3 linked regions of the Homo sapiens genome follow. The protein of the gene in region 1 interacts with the protein of each later gene in a biochemical or structural test. Each region holds a gene or a part of one and is shown in the gene's direction. Other genes may lie near its edges.

Region 1 (7,027 bases):
TTGCTTAGTTAACCATTACCAAGAACACATTGCTATGTTTTTAAACCTAGTTTGAAAATGTCTTGTTTGATTTCATTTATGAAGAATGCTTTGGTGTGAAAGCATACTTAGTTCAATAAAGCACCCAATGATTTTAGTTCAAGAAAGTACTTAAAAATTCCCTTTTAATGTTTTCTGTTATTTGCAGGTGACATAAAGGGTCAACATACAGAAACTTTGCTGGCAGGATCCCTGGCCAAAGCCCTTTGCTGTATCCTTGGTGTCTGAATCATTTAGAAGGTGTCTTCTGTAATAAACATATCTTAACTTGTGACATTTCTTAGGACCTTGGGTGCCCATTACTGGGACATGTGAGTACTCTGAAGTGGAGGGTAATTTTTTAAAAAATAGTTTACATTGGCTTTGAATTTTTTTTTCTTTTTTTGAGACAGTCTCACTCTGTCGCCCAAGTTGGAGTGCAGTGGCACAATCTCGGCTCACTGCAACCTTCGCCTCCCAGATTCAAGCAGTTCTCTTGCTTCAGCCTCCCAAGTAGCTGGTACAGGCACCCGCCATCACTCCCGGCTAATTTTTTTTGTATTTTTAGTAGAGATGTAGTTTCACCAAGTTAGCCAGGCTGGTCTCTAACTCCTGACTTCAAGTGATCCACCCACCTCGGCCTCTCAAAGTGCTGGGATTACAGGCCACAGTGTGTGGCTGGCTTTGAAATGTTTATTAAGACAAGCTGTAAAGGCCGGGCGTGGTGGCTCATGCCTGTAATCCCAGCACTTTGGGAGGCCGAGGCAGGCGGATCATGAGGTCAGGAAATCAAGACCATCCTGGCTGACACAGTGAAACCCCGTCTCTACTAAAAATACAAAAAAATTAGCTGGGCGTGGTGGCGGACACTTGTAGTCCCAGCTACTAGGGAGGCTGAGGCAGGAGAATAGCGTGAACCTGGGAGGCAGAGCTTGCAGTGAGCTGAAATCGCACCACTGCACTCCAGCCTGGGCGACAAAGCGAGACTACATCTCAAAAAAAAAAAAAAGAAAAAAAGATAAGCTGTAAAAACTGGAAGTGGGGAAGAGTGAGAAAACTCTAGCTTCTCCATTATGTCTTTCTGCCTTCAGGAAACACTGCTTCAGGGTGCTTTCTTGTTTCTTATTTTGATAAATTCAGACTTTTTAAACATTTTCATTTTCTTCTTGACTTGGGAACAGTGTTTGATTTTTAAAAGCCATTTAGGAGCCCTGAAGCTTAATAAATGAGTGGCTCCTTCTCCATAGGTGAACGGGTTGTTTTGCATAGGGCAATACCTTTTCATTTTATCTGTGTGACGTTTTCTCAGTCTTATGGCATTAATTTTTTGGAGGAGGGGCAGTATTGAGTGATTATTTTGTCCTGGAGTTTGATGTGGGTTGCCTGAACATATTTGTAAATCAGTACTTGTCCCAGGATTCAAATTTAGGACATGGTAGGTAAGAATAGGACAGTCAAGTGTTGGGAATTTTAATTTTCTGGGACAGAGATTATATTTTGGTGAGATTACAAAGTCCAGTTGACTGCAGAGTTAGGAACTGAAAACCCCCAATCACTCTTGTGTATTTATCTTGGTGAGTGGAGCATTTCCCTTCTTAGCTAGGTAGATGCTGGGTTTATTTAAAATTGGAGGTTATTTTTCTTTTTACTATAAATATTTATGAAGCAAAATAATATTTTTGTATTCCTTAATGTTAAGAAATTAAGACATTCATAGAATGAACAAGGAAGTTAAAGGTAAGAGCCTACGTTTTCCTATGAGAACTGTAATCCTACTTATTTTACTAGTATTTCTTTACTAGACTGTTTAAAAATTGGTTAGGAAACCATATATGATTAGTAAGATTTAGTTAAATTTTTTTCTGCTTTTTTCTCTTTGTAGACAATCAGGAAATGAAATCAAGGATATTGGTAAGATAAAAAAATCATTACTTTTTTATATGACAACTATAATTAGAAAACATAACGGGAGACCAGGTGTGGTGGCTCACACCTGTTATCCCAGCACTTTGGGAGGCCGAGGTGGGCAGATCACTTGAGGTCAGGAGTTCGGGACCAGCCTGGCCAACATGGTGAAACCCCGTCTCTACTCAAAATACAAAAATTAGCTGGGCGTGGTGGTGCATGCCTATAGTCCCAGCTACTTGGGATCCCGAGGCAGGAGAATCGTTTGAACCTGGGAGGCAGAGGTTGCAGTGAGCTGGAGGTTGCAGTGAGCCGAGATCACACCACTGCACTCTAGCCTGGGTGACAGAGTGAGACTCCGTCTCAAAAAGAAAAAAAAAAGAAAACATAATGGGAAATAAAACGCATTTATAGTAGGAGCAAAAAATGTTAACTATCCAGGATTCATTTAACAAGCAATGTGTAAAACTGATGATAAGGAAAACTAAAATTCTGAGAGCGATAGAAGAATAAGTGGAGAGCCATATTTTGTTCTTGGATGTCAGTTTTCCCAAAATCACACTGTAAATTCAATTTACAATCTCAGTCAGAATATCAGGGAGGTTTTTTTTTTTCCTGGCAGGGTGGGGAGATTTAAAAAAGAAATTCAAGGCTGAGCACGGTGGCTCACTCCTGTAATCCCAACACTTTGGGAGGCCAAGGCGGGTGGATCACGAGGTCAGGAGATCGAAACCAACCTGGCTAACATGGTGAAACCCCGTCTCTAGTACAAATACAAAAAATGTCGTGGGCGCCTGTAGTCCCAGCTACTCGGGAGGCTGAGGCAGGAGAATGGCGTGAACCCAGGAGGCAGAGGTTGCAGTGAGCCGAGATTGCGCCACTGCACTCCAGCCTGGGCAACAGAGCGAGACTCTGTCTCAAAAAAAAAAAAAAGAAGTGCCAAGTAACGAGATATTCATTGTTTGTTGCTTAGCACAAATGAAAAAGCTGGCAGTTCCCAGGGTTGATGGTGATGTTGGGGATTGCTTATTCTCATGGGTTGCTGATAGGAGGATAAATTGGTAAAAATCTTTTCTGGGGTGCATTTTGGTAATCTGTGTCAAAATTAAATGTTCATATACTTTAGTAATCACTGCTTATTTTCCGGAGGTAATTAGAGAGCTGTGCAGATGGTATATGAGGGTATCATCAGGGTATTGTTTAAAACTGAGAACTGGAAACTGCTTAAATAGTGGAAATTTATGAAGTCCGCAAGGAGCATAGTATATATTATAATTCATTGACATTAGAATATTTTTTCCCACATATATTGTGGACTGAAAAAGCAGGTTGCAGAATGCTAAGTAATCATCTTGATACGTGTGAGTGTGTGTATTTTGGATGTGTGTGTATTCTGGATGTGTGTATGTGTGTATATTTTGGATGTGTGTGTGTTTTGGGTGTGTGTATGTATTTGGGGTGTGTTTGTGTGTTTTGGGTGTATTTTGGGTTTGTGTTTGTTTTATGTGTGTATTTGGGGTGTGTATATTTTGGGGGGGTGTATTTTGGGGGGTATGTTTTGGATGTGTATTTTTTGGGGCTGTGTATTTGGTTGTGTGTGTGTGTTGGGTGTGTGTATTTAGTGGTGTGTGTACTTTTGGGGTACGTGTATTTTGGTTGTGTGTGTGTGTATTTTGGGTGTACTTACCTGTGTATTTTGGGTGTATGTCCGTGTGTGTATTTTGTATATGTGTGTGTTTTGGGTGTATGTGTATTTGGGGTGTGTGTATTTGGGGTATGGGTGTATTTTGGGTGTGTATTTTGGAGTGTGTGTATTTTTGGGTGTGTGTGTGTATTTTGGGGGTGCATGTGTGTATTTTGGGTGGGTAGGTGTGTGTATTTTGGGGGCGTGTGTGTATTTTGGGTATATGTGCGTATGTGTTTATTTTGTGTATGTGTGTGTTTGTGTTTTGGGTGTGCATGTATATACCTGCCCATGTAGGTGCTCTCCAGAATGAGTTCATCAAACCGTTACGTGGAGCGGGATTTCGGGGGAAATGTTACTGTCATCTTTATACTTTAGGTATCATTTAACAATGATAAATGGGAAGACAAACTGGAATAATGTTGGTTGTGGTTCGCAGTATATTGTGTGACATTGGTGTGAGAGGACTGGCATGTGCCTGGGTGGAATTAACATGACTGTGATTTTTAGGTGATTAAGGCTGCAGAAGACAGTGCGTTGCAGTATATGAACTTCATGAATGTCATCTTTGCAGCACAGAAACAGGTGAACTGAGAGCCTGCCGTTTAAAGTATTTGTTTCATAACGAAGGAGTCAATTTCATTTTTTGAATGCTCTACTCTGAGGTATTCTGACTACGTAGGCTTATGAATGGGCAAGGAATCCAGAATCTGTATTATGTTCTAGTCTTTTCTCTATTTTGGGTCCTGGACCACTTGAGAATCTGATGCATTCCCAAAACAATATGCACTCAACCACAGTTTTGCATAGAGTTTCATGGTATTCAGGTAACCTTTAGCCCATCCTTGGACCCCATGCCAAGAATCCCTGGTTTGACAGTTTGCTGTATAAACCTTGCATCAGTTTCTTTATCTTGTTGCTGTGGCGAAGCTGTAAAAATTCAGTATTTTTACTTTGCAAAGAGCTGAAATGTTCAGATGAAGTATAATACATTTTCTTCTTTGGTGTGTTTATGAAGAAAGAAAACCTCCTTAAAATTTCAGTTTTAATGTAAAATGCTGCTATAGCCATGCATAATGTTCTCTGTTGTGGAGTGGCAGCATGATGTAGTGAAAAGAGCCTGGACTTTGGAGACATGCCGAGTGGGGTGACAGCTTTCTCACCCGCTGGCTCTGTGACCACAGCCCAGCCATGTCCTGGGTGCTTCAGCTGCCAAATGCAAATATCTGCCGTGCAGAGTCACGTTGCATATTGAGTGAGCTATTTTAAGCATAGAGTATGGCATGTAGTAGGTTCTCAGTATAGGGTAATCATTATTGTTATTATTCCTGTAATATTTTCAAAATGTTTCTTTTAGAATATTTTGATTGATGCCTGTGTTTTAGACTCCGACTCAGGGCTCCTCCAACAGGTATGTTTTAAAACCATGCTTTGTGTCGGTGGTTATGACAATTAGTGATTTTTATATTGATTACAATTTAAAATGAAAGCTTTGGGTATATTGGGTTAAATAAAATATGTTATTCAGCCTAATTTTATCTATGTCTTTCCCCCTTACGTATGGAGCTACTGGAAAATTTTAAATTACATATTGCTTGCGTTATATTTCCGTTGGGCAGCACTAAAAGACAAAAACTGAATTTTACTTTAACCCGAAAGGGAAACAAAACCCTAAAGTAAGTCTGAAGAAATTACTGAGTTTTTGTTAGATGTTTTTTGGCCACAAATGTTGTTTCCTAAAGGATCAGTTACAAGCACAAAACTATGACAAACCCTGAATTTAGGTTACTGCTGGGGATGAAGGATGGGGAGAGCGAGGTCCAATGGGAAAATTTACATGCTTCAAAGGCTCTGAGATTGTACTGTTTCTTCAGCTTGATCGTAGGTATATGATGTTCATTTTATTATTTAAACCATACTTACACATTATGTATACAGACTCTTGTACATATTATATTTCAGTAGTAAAAATTCAAAAAGTTTGAATTCATTTTTTAGCAACACATTTCAGTCTACACATTGTCTATTAACTCCAAGACGATCTTGTCTCTGCCATGAATTCACATACCAGCTCTACCTCCTCAGCCCTCACATTCATTTTTCTAGTCCAGTCCCAGACTCTCCTGAGTTCCAGACTTGCAGAATCAGCCGTGTACGTAGTACCTCCTCTTGGACGTCTGGCAGGCATCTTCAGTGTCATGTGTCAAAAGCAGAGAGCTCTTGGTTTGTCCTCTCAGCCTCTTCCTGCTCCACTGGTAGCCCCATCTCCCTAAGTGGCAGTGCAGTTCACTCAGCAACTCAAGCAAAAACCTGACTCTTCCTTGTCTCTTCTCTTCCCTCCTTTCATAACCATGAGCAAATCCTGTTGATTCTGCCTTTAAAATATATCCTGGCTGAGCTCAGTGGCTCATGCCTATAATCTCAGCACTTGGGAGGCTCAGGCGGGTGGATGGCTTGAGCTCAGAAGTTTAAGACCAGCCTGGGCAACATGGCGAGACACCATCTCTATAAACAATACAAAAAAATTAGCCTATCATGGTGGTGCACGCCTGTAGTCTCAGCTGTTCGGGAGGTGGAGGCAGGAGGATTGCTTGAGCCAGGAGTTCGAAGCTGCAGTCAGCTACGATCATGCCACTGCACTCCAGGGAAACCCTGTCTCCCTCTTAAGAAAAAAAAATGTGAAAGTTGGTTCTCAGAACAGCTGTCAGAATGAAGCTTTCAAAATACAAGATTGGTGCAAAAGTAATTGTGGTTTTTGCCTTTTTTTTTTTTAACAGTAAACACTGCAATTACTTTTGCACCAACCTAATATAAATTAGAACCTGTTGCTCACTTGCTTAAAACCCTCCCATAGCCTAGCATCATACGTTGACTAAAACCCAGAGTCAGGGCCTGCCAGGGCCTTCCAGATGCTGCTTGCTGAGGCTCCTGGGAACCTTTTGCCCCGCATCTTCCACACTCTCCCTCTTCAGTCCGGCCCCACCGCCCCCTTGCTATTGCCTGAAACAGGCCTGCTTCGGCCAGAGGGGCGCTGCACTTTCTGTTCTCTCTGCTCGCAAGCTCTTCCCGCAGGTGTTTGCATGGCCTACTCCCTGCCTGCCTTCACGTCTCTACTTCTGTGCCACCTCCTCAGAGAAGCCTTCCCTGACCACCATTGTTAGTGTTACTCCCTCTCCCCTTAGCCTACTTTATTTTTCTTCATAGAAATGATCATAACCTATAACATTATTTTTGCATTTACTTACCTGATTTACTCTCTGCCTTCTCCACTAGAACCTTAACTTCATGAGGATGGACACTGTGATGTTTACTGCTGTAACCCTGCACAGTGCTCTAAAACAGTTGTTAAATGTGTAAATGAATCTAACGGACCAACTGAACCAGGACTGTACTATCAGAGGAGCCTCAGGGTCCTAGGAT
Region 2 (7,027 bases), on another chromosome or scaffold:
TAATATAAAAAGATTCAAACATGAATTGTCATTTTTGTCATCTTCAATTAAAATTGTTCCAAATTTTAAAATTTGTTTGACTTATGGTCAAATGTCTGCTGCCTCAAACTAGAATAAAACCCATCTTGAATTTCTATGACAGAATACTAAAAACAAAAGACTTTTTAAAAGTACTCTTGTGTTAACATTTATTTTAATTCTGTTCTTTTCTCTCTAGCTTTCTTGTTTTTCTCAAAGTACTCCTCATACCTTCATAAGACAGTCTTTGTAGTCAATGCTAAAGATAGAGAATAGAGAAAAACTCTGTGTTCAGGATTATATATAAAGAGAAGCAGTAACCTCAGAGTGAGTGAGTCATTTAAGTCTGAATCAAGGAAAGATAAGGATGTGGTTGGCCAGATCAGAGAAATATGCCTATTCTGTCTCTCCCAGGTGGGTTTAGCTAACTCAGGGAGAAACATTTTGGGGTGGCAGATATATAGAGCAGGCTCAGCACATCAAGATGGGGATGTTGGCTGAGGATAGAAGAGGCATTGAAAGGAGTCAGAGAGACAAATGGGTGTGAGAGGAGAGGCCAGAATGTAGAATAAGCACAGAAACATAAAAAACCAGATCAGACCAAGAGAAAAGAGAAAGTAAAGTGAATGCTGAAGAAGAGAAAAGTTCGAAAAGCCAACCTATACAAAGTAAGCAGCATCATATTACAGTGAAGGCAGCCACATAGCCTTTAAAAGACCACACAGAACAGATAGAAGATAGAGAATGACTAGGGACAGTTAATGGTTAAATTGAGATGAACAAGAAATGATACACAAAGTAACATCAATGAATGCAGAAAGAAATAGCAGAGAGAAACCAGTTATGTGCAATTGTAGCATAAGACTTCAGAATATAGCAAAAAAAAAAAAAAAATAGATGGATTGGATATATTTACAGAGAGATGCCTCATAGGTCTAGACTTAGAGTGGAGAGCAAATAACTGGTAGAAAGTAGGAGCAGTGAGGAGGCAAAAGAAGTGATTGAGACATGGAACAGGTAGAACAGGCACCGGGAAGAAAAAGGCTGTGGGAGAAAGTGGTTTACAAAGTAGCCCTGGGCACAGAGGTGGAATAATGAAAAGTATGCAAACGCAGTACCTGGAAGGCATGGATTAAATGACTGGATCAGTGTGGACTGGGCAACTGGAGATAACATTATTTTTTTGTTGCACAAGTAGCATGGCCCTATAGATATCCAGAGGCAGGACAGGATAGGTGGGATGAGCTAAGCCCAAGTTTACCTCCAGAGGATGGTCAGAAACACAGTGTAATTTAGGGAAAGATGTGATGGGCTAATCAGATACACGGACACAGACCTCAGCTAAGTATGAGTTAGAAAACCCCAGTAGATAAGAAGTGGACCCAGAACAAGTGAAGAGTAAGGGAGTAAGCAGAGATGAAGTAAGACAAAAGTGAAGGCAAAATAGTGAATGGCTTAGGAGGAAAGACTAATGAAGTATTTATTAGATTCAGAATGAGTCGGGGCTCCACACAGGAGATAATTCAGGATCCATGGAAAAGAGTGAGAAAAACGGACGAAAAATAAAGGAGAAACGTGAGACCAGGTCAGTCATGGACACTGAAAGAAACACCCAAAAGGTTTGGAGTGAGCAGGCAGTTCAAGAAACATGAAGATGGTTACAGGATAAAAAATAGCTGGACAGAGCGGGAGGTGGAGAAGCATACGTAGAAGTTGAAGTGGAAAGCATCAGTAGCAGGCAGAGAAAGGCATGAGCTCAGACAGAGAATCAGGCATATTCGAAAGAATTTGGAACAGATTGAGAGTGAAACAGGCAGATAAAATGGGGAACCATCAGAAATACTGAAAACTTGGCCTAACACAGAGGTTGGGGGGAACTTAAGTGACTAGAAGATAAGGAAATGATCAGACATGGAACAGGCTAACAGACAAAGAAGATCGTGGGTGGTAAAAGTAAAAAGCAAAATAAAATAGACTGAGAAAAACAGACCATTGTTACTGCAGAGTAGAATCAGTGGTTGGAGATGGATACAGAGTATCAGCATAGATGTGGAGATAGAAACATACAACTACATAGAAAAGCAGCTAGTTTGTGCAGAGGGTTATACCTTACTGCATGAGTGGTGGGAGAAGAACGTTGGTTGAGGTCAGGCTTTGTAGAATAGTTTTCTAGCTTTTTCCATGATCAGCACACAAAAGAAAGGAAAAAGCACACAGAACCACTTTGAATTGTTCTGGGTTGAGCTGAGATAACATTTTTAAAAATACAATGTGTTTTGTTTTTGTTTTTTAAACAAAATACTGGGAGAGATTTTTGTCAGACTAGTGGCTTTAAGTAGATGATGTCACCATATCACTTTCTCCTTCTCCAAGTATTAATAGATTTATTGAAACATCTTAAATCTATAAAACCTCAGTCATTTATATACATCAGAGGATCCCATGTTTGAGGAACTTAAATATAAATATGATGTGTTTTTCTAACGCATACAACTTTTACCCTGAGGTATAGAAGCACTTTCTTGGAATTGTTAAAGCATGTGTGCATGATTGCTAGGTAGCATTTACATGTAGTATTTCAGTAATTGCCTCCCTAGCTGCCCTTCTTTTCCAACACCAAGACATTAATTTTTCTTCTTCCTGTACTCCTCTATTCTTTTTATATAGCAAGGACCATGCAGCAACTACTGCTGGAGCTGCTAGCCTAGCAGGTGGGCACCACCGGGAAGCATGGGCCACCAAAGGTCCTTCCTATGAAGACTTATACACTCAGAATGTTGTCATTAACATGGATGACCAAGAAGATCTTCATCGAGCCTCACTGGAAGGGAAATCTGCCAAAGAGAGGCCTATTTGGTTGAGAGAAAGCACTGTCCAAGGGGCATATGGTTCTGAAGATATGAAAGAAGGTAAGAGTAGAAGTCAGTAAAATGGATGTGTCTTAGGTTCTGTAGAACATGAACTTGGCTTAGTGGGAAACTGCCTGGGCAATTCTGGATCTGTTCTACAGAACAATTAATTGCATTATATTAGGAAGTAAGAAATTGAACAATAAGATAAAAACCAACTAGTATACTTCCATTGCCCTTCAACTTAGTGAAAATAACAAATAGCCTTTTAAATTTTCATTTTTAGATTTGAAAAATTGTCATCTTTTTATCTTAATTTCTTGGAAAAATGCTATCTGTTGTTTTCAAGGTAGCCATACTCACCTTTCCTTTAATCTTATATTACCCTGACTTATATGCATTTAATTTTTCTGAATTGGGAGCCAAAACTATACGCTACCCCAAACTTTATGTTTTCTCTTCATAAATACCAAGGAGTGTATGCTACCTGAAATAGATACAAAGAGACCACATGAATAAAGGATTGAGCATTCTCACAGTCCAAGACGGTTAGCAGAACTTTGTTCTAGAGGATTTTGGAAATTTCTGAGGCATAAAGGGTTAAGAATTGCATACTAATCTTCGGAAGTTAGAGAACTGCAAGATTTTACTTTCTAAGTTTTAGTCTAAGTTACTGCATTCAAGACTTTGAGTGATGATGGTTTAGGAGTATGTAGAAAATGGGAGGCAAAAATGGATGACGATGACTCAAGCTGGAAAGTAGAGAGGAAGGGTGTCTCTATTTCTTGCTGAATTTTATCAGTGTAACAATCAATGTGCCGCTACTCCCAAGTTAATATATCATTACTAACATATCACGTGAGTTTGGTGATATGTTAGTGCCAAAGAATAATCAGTAGCTGAAAACCACTTGTTTTTTGGCGTTTCTCCTAGCCTCTTTTCCCTTCATAATTAGCATTTAGTATATGTATATACTAGAAATTGTGAAGGTAACGTGGAGTTTGGTAGTGATGGTAAAGCAGCTAATACCTCTACTGTGATTCTCTTTGATATATTAATTTTAATAAGAAAAGGTTTTCCAAGGCAACCATACTTTACCCTCCTTCTTCCTCACTGATTAGCCTGCCATGTTAGTTTTTTTGACGGAGTCTCGCTCTGTTGCCTAGGTTGGAGTACAGTGGTGCGATCTTGGCTCACTGAAACCTCTGCTTTCCGTGTTCAAGTGATTCTCTTGCCTCAGCCTCCTGAGTAGCTGGAATTGGGCGCAAGCCACCATGGCCAGCTAATTTTTGTATTTTTAGTAGAGACGGGGTTTTGCCATGTTGTCCAGGCTGGTCTCAAACTCCTGACCTCAAGTGATCTGCCTGCCTCGGCCTCCCAAAGTGCTGGGATTACAGGCATGAGCCACTGTGCCCAGCCTGTTGTGTTATTTAGATTGAAGTTGTTTTAGATTATACAGTAGTTAGGCTATACTACTACTTAATAAATTTGTTTTCCCCAACTTGGCTTCTTGCCTGTTCTTAAAGCAGCCTTCTTTTCTTTGAACTTAGGAAGAAAACTGAATAAAATAAAATTATTATTAACCAACATTATATATTAAGCTCATAAGTTTAACATTCTAGTTTACAGTTCCTAAAATGATAGAATATGAATCATATGGGCCTTAAATAAGTTATCTGGTCTACTTAAGTTTTGTAAATATTTATTTCTGCATAAAATAGGATAGTATGTTGTCATGTCTGAATTTATCCTAAGTTTCTTGATAGTAGAGCAGACTCTATCCAGTGAATGTATGAAGTGGGTCTTAACACTTGATTTTCCTCAAACTTCAAGTCATGTTGATATCTTTCACAATTGTATCGACTTCAATCATGTTCTCATTACTATACTGAAGAAAGTTCTAATTCCTTTTGATTCTGTTTTCCTTAAACAGTTCTCTTTTCCACTGCTGCCACCTCCTACAGTTTTTGTTTATTTTTGTCTTTTTCTGGACCATCTCTAATTGTAATATACTTTACTTGAGACATAGTGACCAGAATGATACATGTTGTTCATGCATGGATTCACCATTGATTTGAGTTTTATTTCCAGTATCTTTCTGGTTTTTACTTGAGATTTTGTTTGTTGCTTTGGTTCTGGAAGCATGTTAAGACCAAAAACTTCTAGAAACACGTAGAGGTACTTTTTAGGTTCTTCTGTGCCTTGAATCCAATAGCTTGGATCATATCTTTCAGTATATTTTAGATTATTTTTCTGCAGGCTGATTTTCTTGCACTTGCTGAAATAGAAATAGATCTGCTACTTTTCTGCCCACGTATACAACCTTCAGCTCTTCCTATATTTTTTTGCTGCAACTTGGCCTTTCAGTACCCACAATTGCTTAGCATCAATTCCGTGAATATAGTTTCCCAGTATACATCTTCTTTGTAATTTATAACTCTGTTGAAAAAGGCTGTTCCTAGAACCACTGTTTCTACTTTACCATCCAGAAATTTGCTCATTTATCCTTGTTTTTTGTTTTCTGTCTTCATCTGTAACAGAATAATTCTTTTTTCTCCAAACCTCTCAAGACCCTTGTCAGAAATCTGTTACGTGTGACTTAATTTAGTTTACAAAACTAATTTTCTTTTTCCCTAATTTAATACTTAAACATTAATCAAAATACTGTGTTGATATTATTAAACTATTTGGAACATTCTTTTAGAAGCAATTATTGTCTTAAAGGCTTGCATGCATTCCTTACCTTCTTTTCTTTCTGTTGTAGTGCTGCATTGGCAGTAAGCTCTAAGGAGGAGGTTCAGCCTTTGACAATATTTTGAAGTAGTTAAGTTTGATTTTAACTCTCATTTTGACAGTCATGTTATCAAAAGCCTCTTTTCTCTGACCTAAACTTTTAACTTGTCTGCTTCTGTTTCCCTTTCTCTCTCTTATCTGCTCAGTATCTCATTTTAGGAGTTCTGTGCCTTCTAAAATGTCCAGGGATTTAGCTAATTCATTTTAATGTGTTAATGAGAAGATGCTTTCACTTTATCCATAGTCAGAATTGACCATTTCTGAGTCTTCTCTTGATGACGATGATGATAGATAACACTATTCTAAGTGCCAGGCCCATTCTAGACACTTCACAGACATTCACTTAATCCCCACAGTAATCTAGTGAAGTAAATACTATTTTCCCCCTTTCTGTACTTGAGAAAATTGAAGCGGAGAGATGAAATAACTTGGCCAGAATCATACAGCTAAATAGTGTTAGGATTTGAATCAGGGAGTCAGGTTCCAAACAATACTTTTAATCTTTTTATGTATTTTAAATGGCAGTATGTTTGGTAGTAGTATCAGAATGCAGAATGCAGATGGTTTTCTTAAATATTTCATCTGCAGTATATCAGGTAAGATATGTACACAAAATGATAGGAGGTGTGTGGTGAGAGAAGCTTCATTCCTAAAATTAGATTCTTTTTTTATAAAGAGTTTTAAGTATGCTTAGTTTGCTTCATGAAAATAAAACTCACATTTATTCACTCATTTGTCAGATGTTTATTCAGTGCCTAACAGAGTGGCAGGTACTATTTAGGTAAATGGGATATATCCATGAATAAACAAGATAAATATCTGTTGTGGTAGAACCTACATCCTTGGAAAGGGGGTGACAAAGACAATAGATGTAAGTTATTCATTATGTTAGGAAATAAGTGCTATGGGGGAAAAATAGAGCATTGGGAATGTAGGGATAGGATACATTTAAAAGGTAACATTTGAATAAAGACATGAAAGATGGAAGGGAGTTAGCTGTGTGAGTACCTAAAGGAAAAATATTCCAGGCAGAGGGAACAGGTAATGCAAAGGCCCTGAGGTAGGAGTGTGTCTGATATGTACAAGGAATACCATGGAGGCTACTGTGGCTAGACAAGAATGAGCAGGGGAAAGAAGTAAGAGGTAGATGATCAGGAAGGATTCCAGATGATGTGGGACCCTATAGGCCATTGCAAAGCTTTTGGCTTTTACCTTGAGTGAGATAAAGAGCCATGTTTTGATTTTCTGTTATGCCAGCTACTCTAGTCGATTCTTCATAGACATTATCTTATATGTTTTTATTCAGAACCTTAGAAAGTAGATGCTTTTATCACCTCATTTTACAGAAAAAGGTATTGAAGTTTAGA
Region 3 (7,027 bases), on another chromosome or scaffold:
TGTTCTTTACCCAGGTAATTTATTTTGTGTAAGACTAAACCTGTTAATGTAATTTGTTATGTTTATTCAGAGTAACAACATTTTAACCATCACAATTTGTAATTTTGCTTTTTGAAAAATGTGGTGTCTAAGAGCATATTATTGGGCTTATTACCAACTCTACAGCATGTTATTTTCTGTATCTTTCCTCCCAAGTAGCCTAATTTGAAGTTACGTATTTATTTTTAATCAGGGTACCCTTAGTTATTTGGTCCACATTGAACCTTGAAAAGGTAAAATAGATTTTTCTTAATTTTATTATTTGAATGTGTAGTTCAGAAACTTAAGGGACAAGGGTAGGTATTTGATTCTCTCTTATATTGTTAATTTTATCTTTCTGATCATGATTCCTACTCTCTTTTTGCCTAGTAGGTACATATTGGTTGCTAATTGTTTTTTTTTCTGTGGCGAAGTATTTGAAGTATTTACACATTATTCATTGATTCTAAATAATTTAACACATTTTTAATATATTTGGGTTTTTTTCCGTTTCTACCAGATCAAACTTGGACATAGATCAGAAGCTAAAGATGGTAAGTATTTCATGTAATCTGACAGATAGGAAAAGTTTTCTCCTTTTTTTTTTTTTTTTTTTTTTTTTTTTTTAAAAAGACAGGGTCTTGCTCTGTCACCCAGGCTGGAGTACTGAGACACAATCGTAGCTCACTGCAGCCTCAAACTTAGGTACTCAAGCAGTTCTCCCACCTCAGCCTCTTGAGTAGCTAGGGCTGTAAACATGTGCCACCACTTGTGGTTAATGTTTTATTTTTTGTAGAGATGAGGTCTGGCTGTGTTGCTCAGGCTTCTCTCAAACTCCTGGCCTCAAGCTATCCTCCCACCTCGGCCTCCCAAAGTGCTGGGATTACAGGCTTGAGCCACCATGCCCAGCATAAAGTTTTCATTCTCACTGAAGAAACGAGCAAAGTATGAATTAATAAGTTAGTAATGGTTCTGGATAGAGTTACTGCAGGGTCCCCGAAGAGTAAAGATAGACTCAGCATAGAGAAGGAGTATTTGGTGATTTTTACTTACTGGATATTCAGAGAAACATTCCAAATCACCCACATAAATGGAAGGCAGCAAGCTTAATTAGTTTGTCTTTCTGTCTTCATTACTGTTTTAGGTGTTACAAGCCATTGTTTTTTCTGTTTCTGAGTTTCTAATTACTTTGAAAATTCAGGATACATTTTCATGAAAGTACATAAAGCTTACTATGGAATAGATACATGAGGAAATTATTTCATTAAACTTTCTTCCAAAGTCTTATTTATTAGGATTCATCATAAAATAGCTCTTACAAAAGAGACCCATTGTCTGTGTAAGTGCCAATACTATATCTTATTTTTATTTTGTTTATTTTTTTTGAGACAGAGTCATGCTCTGTTGCCCAGGCTGGAGTGCAGTATCGCAATCTCGGCTCACTGCAACCTCTACCTCCCGGGTTCAAGCGATTCTCCTGCCTCAGCTTCCTGAGTAGCTAGGATTACAGGTGCACACCACCATGCCCAGCCAATTTTTTGTATTTTTAGTAGAGATGGGGTTTTGCCACCTTGGCCAGGCTGGTCTCGATCTCCTGGCCTCAAGTGATCTGCCCACCTAGGCCTCCCAAAGTGCTGGGATTACGAGCCACCGCGCCCGGCCTGTATCTAATTTTTAATTTTGAAATCTGTCATTTGTATTGGAAAATATACTATCTTATCACTAGTTTGCTTTTAGCACAAACAATATGCCACTAATATTTGTAGGGCAAGAGTAGGGAAGCTTATCACCTATATGCTGCACACTTATATATGTTGTTAGTCTAGTAGTGGTGTTCAGATCCTGGTATAGATAAGGTGAAATATTTTTCACCATTTGTCGTAGTCTTTGTTAAGCTATTTTAAAAGTAAAGCAATATTGGCCTGGTGCCATGGCTTACGCCTGTAATCCCAGCACTTTGGGAGGGTGAGGTGGGTAGATCGCCTGAGCTCAGGAGTTCGAAACCAGCCTGGCCAATATGGCAAAACCCCATCTCTAACGAAAATACAAAAAATTAGCCAGGCGTGGAGGTGCACACCTGTGGTCCCAGCTACTCGGGAGGCTGAGGTGGGAAAATTACTTGAGTCTGGGAGGTGGAGGCTGCTGTGAGCCGAGATCATGCCACTGCACTCCAACCTGGCTGACAGGGTGAAACCCCATCTCAAAAAAAATAAATAAATAAAAATAAAGCAATGTAAAAGAACAACAGATTTGACATAAAAATTGTCAAAGTAGCCCTTATTTTTGTGGGTAATGTTCACTATTTTCTGAGATTACTAACCTTTCTTTAAAAATATGTGTTTGTGGCTGGGTGTGGTGGCTCACGCCTGTAATCCCAGCACTTCAGGAGGCCAAAGCGGGTGGATCACGAGGTCAGGAGTTGGAGACCAGCCTGATGAACATGGTGAAACCCCGCCTTTACTAAAAATACAAAAATTAGCCGGGCGTGGTGGCGCGTGCCTGTAATCCCTGCTACTCTGGAGGCTGAGGCAGGAGAATTGCTTGAACCCGGGAAGCAGAGGTTGCAGTGAGCCGAGATCACGCCACTACACTCTAGCCTGGGCGACAGAGCGAGACTCCATCTCAAAAAAAAAAAAAAAAAAGAAGTGTTTGTAAGGTTTGAGATTTCAGAATTATTCACTTTTTGCTTTGCCTTTTTATATAGGTATAAATAGAACCGCCTTAAGAGAGATAAAATTATTACAGGAGCTAAGTCATCCAAATATAATTGGTGTGAGTATGATCAAAACTGTTACTGGGATTTGGGACTCTGCCTTTTCTTAATATAATGGATGTTGATTAAAGGCTCAGCAAGATGACTTGTTCTGGATGAGCCTTGTAGAAGCTTAAAGGAAATACATTTTCTATCCCAGTTGTTTTGGTAGGCATTGTCTTCAAAACTATACCACTGATTAAATAAATGAAATATTGACATGTAGGCTAATTTTGTCGGAAATAATTTTGAAGTCTAGGGAGCTCTAGCATGTAGTGGCTGAGAGTGTCAACCTGAATTCAAAACCTTTCTTTCTGCCTGTGTGAGACCTTGAGTGTGTTCACTCACAACTCCCCAGAGTCCCTGCCTCATAGGGAAGTTGTGAGACTAGCCAATTGAATAGATGTAAAGTATCTGGAATAGTGCCTACCATAGAAAATGTATTCATTCATTCAATGATAGCTGCTGTTATTTAGAGGATTTCTTAAGAATCACATTTGGGACTTTTCTTTTGAATTGGAGACTGGAATGAGGTTTTCATTGGTTAATTTCTTAATTCTAACTCCAAATATTTGGGGAAAGAGGTTGGGTATTTTTTTAAGTAAAATTTAATATTTTTATGCTTCAAAATACTAATTCCTTTAGTACTGTCCAAAAAAGGACAAATGTCAAATTTAATCAAATGATTTAAGCTTTATAGGGAATTACCAACAGTTTAAATGCTTTTTAAATTTTTAAAAATTGCCTCAGTTGCTATGATACTGTCAGGTATTAAATAGTGAATCACATTTTAATTTTTTAACTTTGCAGCTCCTTGATGCTTTTGGACATAAATCTAATATTAGCCTTGTCTTTGATTTTATGGAAACTGATCTAGAGGTAAGATTAAGATTCCTGGAGAAATTCCTTTGTCCCAGTTTATCAAACAAGAACCTAAATATTTGTTTTCTACCCAAGAAGATACTGGTAGTAAAAGAAAAAAAGCTTAATTTTGTTGAAATTTGGATGTACTCTGAGGCAAAAGGATCTCTAGTTATTTTCTTCTAATCATTTAGTGATATCCCCAGTGTTACATACAAAGATTTGGATTTCATTGGCATTTCTGCCTTCTAAGTTCCCATAGCTAGTTGACGTCATTTTTGGAGAAATGAGCATTAGACCTATAAGATTTGTTTGCTTTTTTTTTTTTTTGTGATGGAGTCTCAGTCTGTTCACCCAGCCTGGAGTGCAATGGCGTGATCTCGGCTCTCTGCAGCCATCACCTCCTGGGTTCCAGTGATTCTCTCACTTCAGCCTCCCAAGTAGCTGGGATTACAGGTGCCACCACGCCCGGCTAAATTTTATATTTTAAGTAGAGACGGGGTGTCACCATGTTGGCCAGGCTGGTCTTGAACTCCTGACCTCAAGTGATCTGCCTGCCTCAGCCTCCCAAAGTGCTAGGATTACAGGCATGAGTCACCATGCCTAGCAACCTATAAGAATTTAAAATTTATTTCTGGCCAGTGCAGTGACTCACGCCTGTAATCTCAGCACTTTGAGAGGCCAAGGCAAGAGGATTGCTTAAGCCCAGGAGTTCAAGACCAGCCTGGACCCCATAGATCCTGTCTCAGCTTTACAAATTATATTAAAAAATAAAGAAACTTATTTCCATATAATCAGAGTAATGTCATTCTTTTGAAAGCCAAGTTTTTTTGTTTGTTTTTGTTTTTGTTTTGTTTTTTTGAGACAGAGTCTTGCTTTGTTACCCGTGCTGGAGTACAGTGGCGCGATCTCAACTCACTGCAACCTCTGCCTCCCAGGTTCAAGCAATTCTTGTGCCTCAGCCTCCTGAGTAGCTGGGATTACAAGCGCCCATCACCATGCCCAGCTAAAATAGAGATGGGGTTTCACTATGTTGGACGGGATGGTTTCAAACTCTTGACCTCTGGCGATCTACCTGCCTGAGCCTCCCAAAGTGCTGGGATTATAAGCGTGAGCCACCATGCCCGGCCTCTTTCTTTTAGATAAATACCTAGCAGTGGTATTGCTAGATCACAAGATTATTGATTAGTGGTATCGATCACAATATTAGTGATGCTGTTATAGATCACAATACTAATGGTATTGATCCTGGAAGGACCTATCATAATAGGCTATGGACTCACCACTAGGCTATGGATTGCACCATTGCACTCCATCCTGGGTGACAGAGTGAGATTCCCATCTCGAAAAAAGAAAAAAAAAAGAAACAAAAACGTATGCCAGAATTCAGTTGGTACAGATGTTTGGCTTTATTAATAATTATCAAAACTGGAACAATCCAAACATCCCTCATTCTAACTGTACAAACAAACTGAAATACTACTCAGGAATAGAAACACACTATTGATAAATGCAGCAACATAGATGAATCTGAAATGCATTATACTAAGTGAAAGAAGCCAGGCTAAAAAGACTATGTATTGAACCATTTCATTTATATGATATTCTGGAAAAGGCAAAATGAAAGGAACCAGAAACCAGATCAGCGGTTATGGGGGCTTTGGGGTAAAGGAAAGGAGTAAGTACAGAGGGGCCTCAGGGAATTTGGGGAGGTTACGGAACTATGCTTTGATTATAGTGGTGGTTACATGACTGGATGCATTTGTCAAAACTCATGGAACTATACACTAAAAAGGGTATGCTTTACCTTAAATCTGATTTTAAAAAAAGAAAAGGGGAACTTTTAGTTCCTAACTGATAAATCTAGAATAAACTGACATTAGGCACAGCTCATAAATAATGCCATCAAAACTCAGTCTTACGCTTTAACTAAGCTCCATTTTCTTCTCTGTTGCATTCTTCATGTGTACAGTTCTCAATATGGTGTTCCAGATGCTTCTAGGTATATGTTTGTAGAGTTTAATAATACCTGAGGAACGAAAGTGCTTTCTTTTCTTTGATTCTAGCACAAGTACTTGGCCTGGTTGATTGACTTGTCTTGTATCCCTGAACCAATCACTTGGCCAGGAGACTGCAGTGTGATAATGGGGATGCCTGGGTCATGTGCCTACCTCTGGAGGCCTTAGGTTGACTCAGTCCTACCTTAACCATGTGGACTAAGCTGAGAAGAGATGGCTTCCCAAAGGAACACTAACTGCTATTGTCAGAAGATGCAAGCAGAAACAACAGGTGTTTGCTACTTTCATGCGAAAGCAGTAGAGGACAAAGCACTGCTTTCTTTTCAAACCAGAAATGCTCTCCCTACCCATCTAACTCTGGAGATTTTGACAGGGCTTCCTGAGGAAACTTAGATAACCTCTTTTGAGAGTCTCCTGTATTGATACTTACATTTTAAGTCTGTAAATTGTTTTATGTGGTAGAGTTTATTTGAAATAATAAAGGGTACCTGTATATTGTATACTTGCTTTACAGGTTATAATAAAGGATAATAGTCTTGTGCTGACACCATCACACATCAAAGCCTACATGTTGATGACTCTTCAAGGATTAGAATATTTACATCAACATTGGATCCTACATAGGGTAAGGTTTTTAATATTGCTTCTTTATACTAGTCAAGTTTTATATAGCCAATTTGGTACATAGTGGTCTGAATATGTAAATTGTTTAACAATGAATTTATAGCTGACTGTTTTATCCCATCTTTTTGCTATATATTATTCCCTTCACTTGTTCCAGCAGTTGGTGCTGTAAGGACTCCATATTACTTTGTGAAATTTAGAACTGGAAGAGATCCAGTCCCTCATTTTTTTTTTTTTTTTTTTTTGAGATGGAATCTTGCTCTGTCACCCAGGCTGGAGTGCAGTGGCGCGATCTCTTGCTCACTGCAAGCTCCGTCTCCTGGTTTCATGCCATTCTCCTGCCTCAGCCTCCCGAGTAGCTGGGACCACAGGTGCCCGCCACCACGCCCAGCTAATTTTTTGTATTTTTTTAGTAGAGACGGGGTTTCACCGTGTTAGCCAGAATGGTCTCGATCTCCTGGCCTCGTGATCTGCCCATCTTGGCCTCCCAAAGTGCTGGGATTACAGGCGTGAGCCATTGCGCCCGGCCTCCTCATTTTTTAATAGATGAAGAGCTAAGTTGCTAAGTGACCTGACCATGGTTATATTTTTTTTCAAGGTTGGCTGCTGATAATGGACAGAGTATTAAAACATAGGTTTTGACCCAGGCATGGTGGCTCACTTTTGTGTTGCCAGCACTTTGGGAGGCTGAGGCAAGTAGATATCTCGAGCCCAGGAGTTCTAGACCAGCCTGGGCAATATAGTGAAAACTCAT

Evidence for each region. Proteins that work in one complex are often made in the same cells at the same time.
Region 2: the proteins of GTF2H3 (region 1) and GTF2E1 form a complex in vitro, tested with the Homo sapiens proteins (one study listed by BioGRID).
Region 3: the proteins of GTF2H3 (region 1) and CDK7 form a complex in vitro, tested with the Homo sapiens proteins (2 studies listed by BioGRID).

What each region holds. Positions count from the first base shown.
Region 1 is NC_000012.12:123,650,807-123,657,833, forward strand, and holds part of GTF2H3 (general transcription factor IIH subunit 3), read left to right. Parts: intron 1-187; coding exon 188-250; intron 251-1,717; exon of another isoform or gene 1,718-1,725; coding exon 1,726-1,755; intron 1,756-1,900; coding exon 1,901-1,929; intron 1,930-4,117; coding exon 4,118-4,192; intron 4,193-4,964; coding exon 4,965-5,018; intron 5,019-7,027. UniProt on the Homo sapiens protein: Component of the general transcription and DNA repair factor IIH (TFIIH) core complex, which is involved in general and transcription-coupled nucleotide excision repair (NER) of damaged DNA and, when complexed to CAK, in RNA transcription by RNA polymerase II.
Region 2 is NC_000003.12:120,773,738-120,780,764, forward strand, and holds part of GTF2E1 (general transcription factor IIE subunit 1), read left to right. Parts: intron 1-2,685; coding exon 2,686-2,927; intron 2,928-7,027.
Region 3 is NC_000005.10:69,251,880-69,258,906, forward strand, and holds part of CDK7 (cyclin-dependent kinase 7), read left to right. Parts: intron 1-538; coding exon 539-572; intron 573-2,722; coding exon 2,723-2,790; intron 2,791-3,580; coding exon 3,581-3,649; intron 3,650-6,163; coding exon 6,164-6,274; intron 6,275-7,027. UniProt on the Homo sapiens protein: Serine/threonine kinase involved in cell cycle control and in RNA polymerase II-mediated RNA transcription. Cyclin-dependent kinases (CDKs) are activated by the binding to a cyclin and mediate the progression through the cell cycle.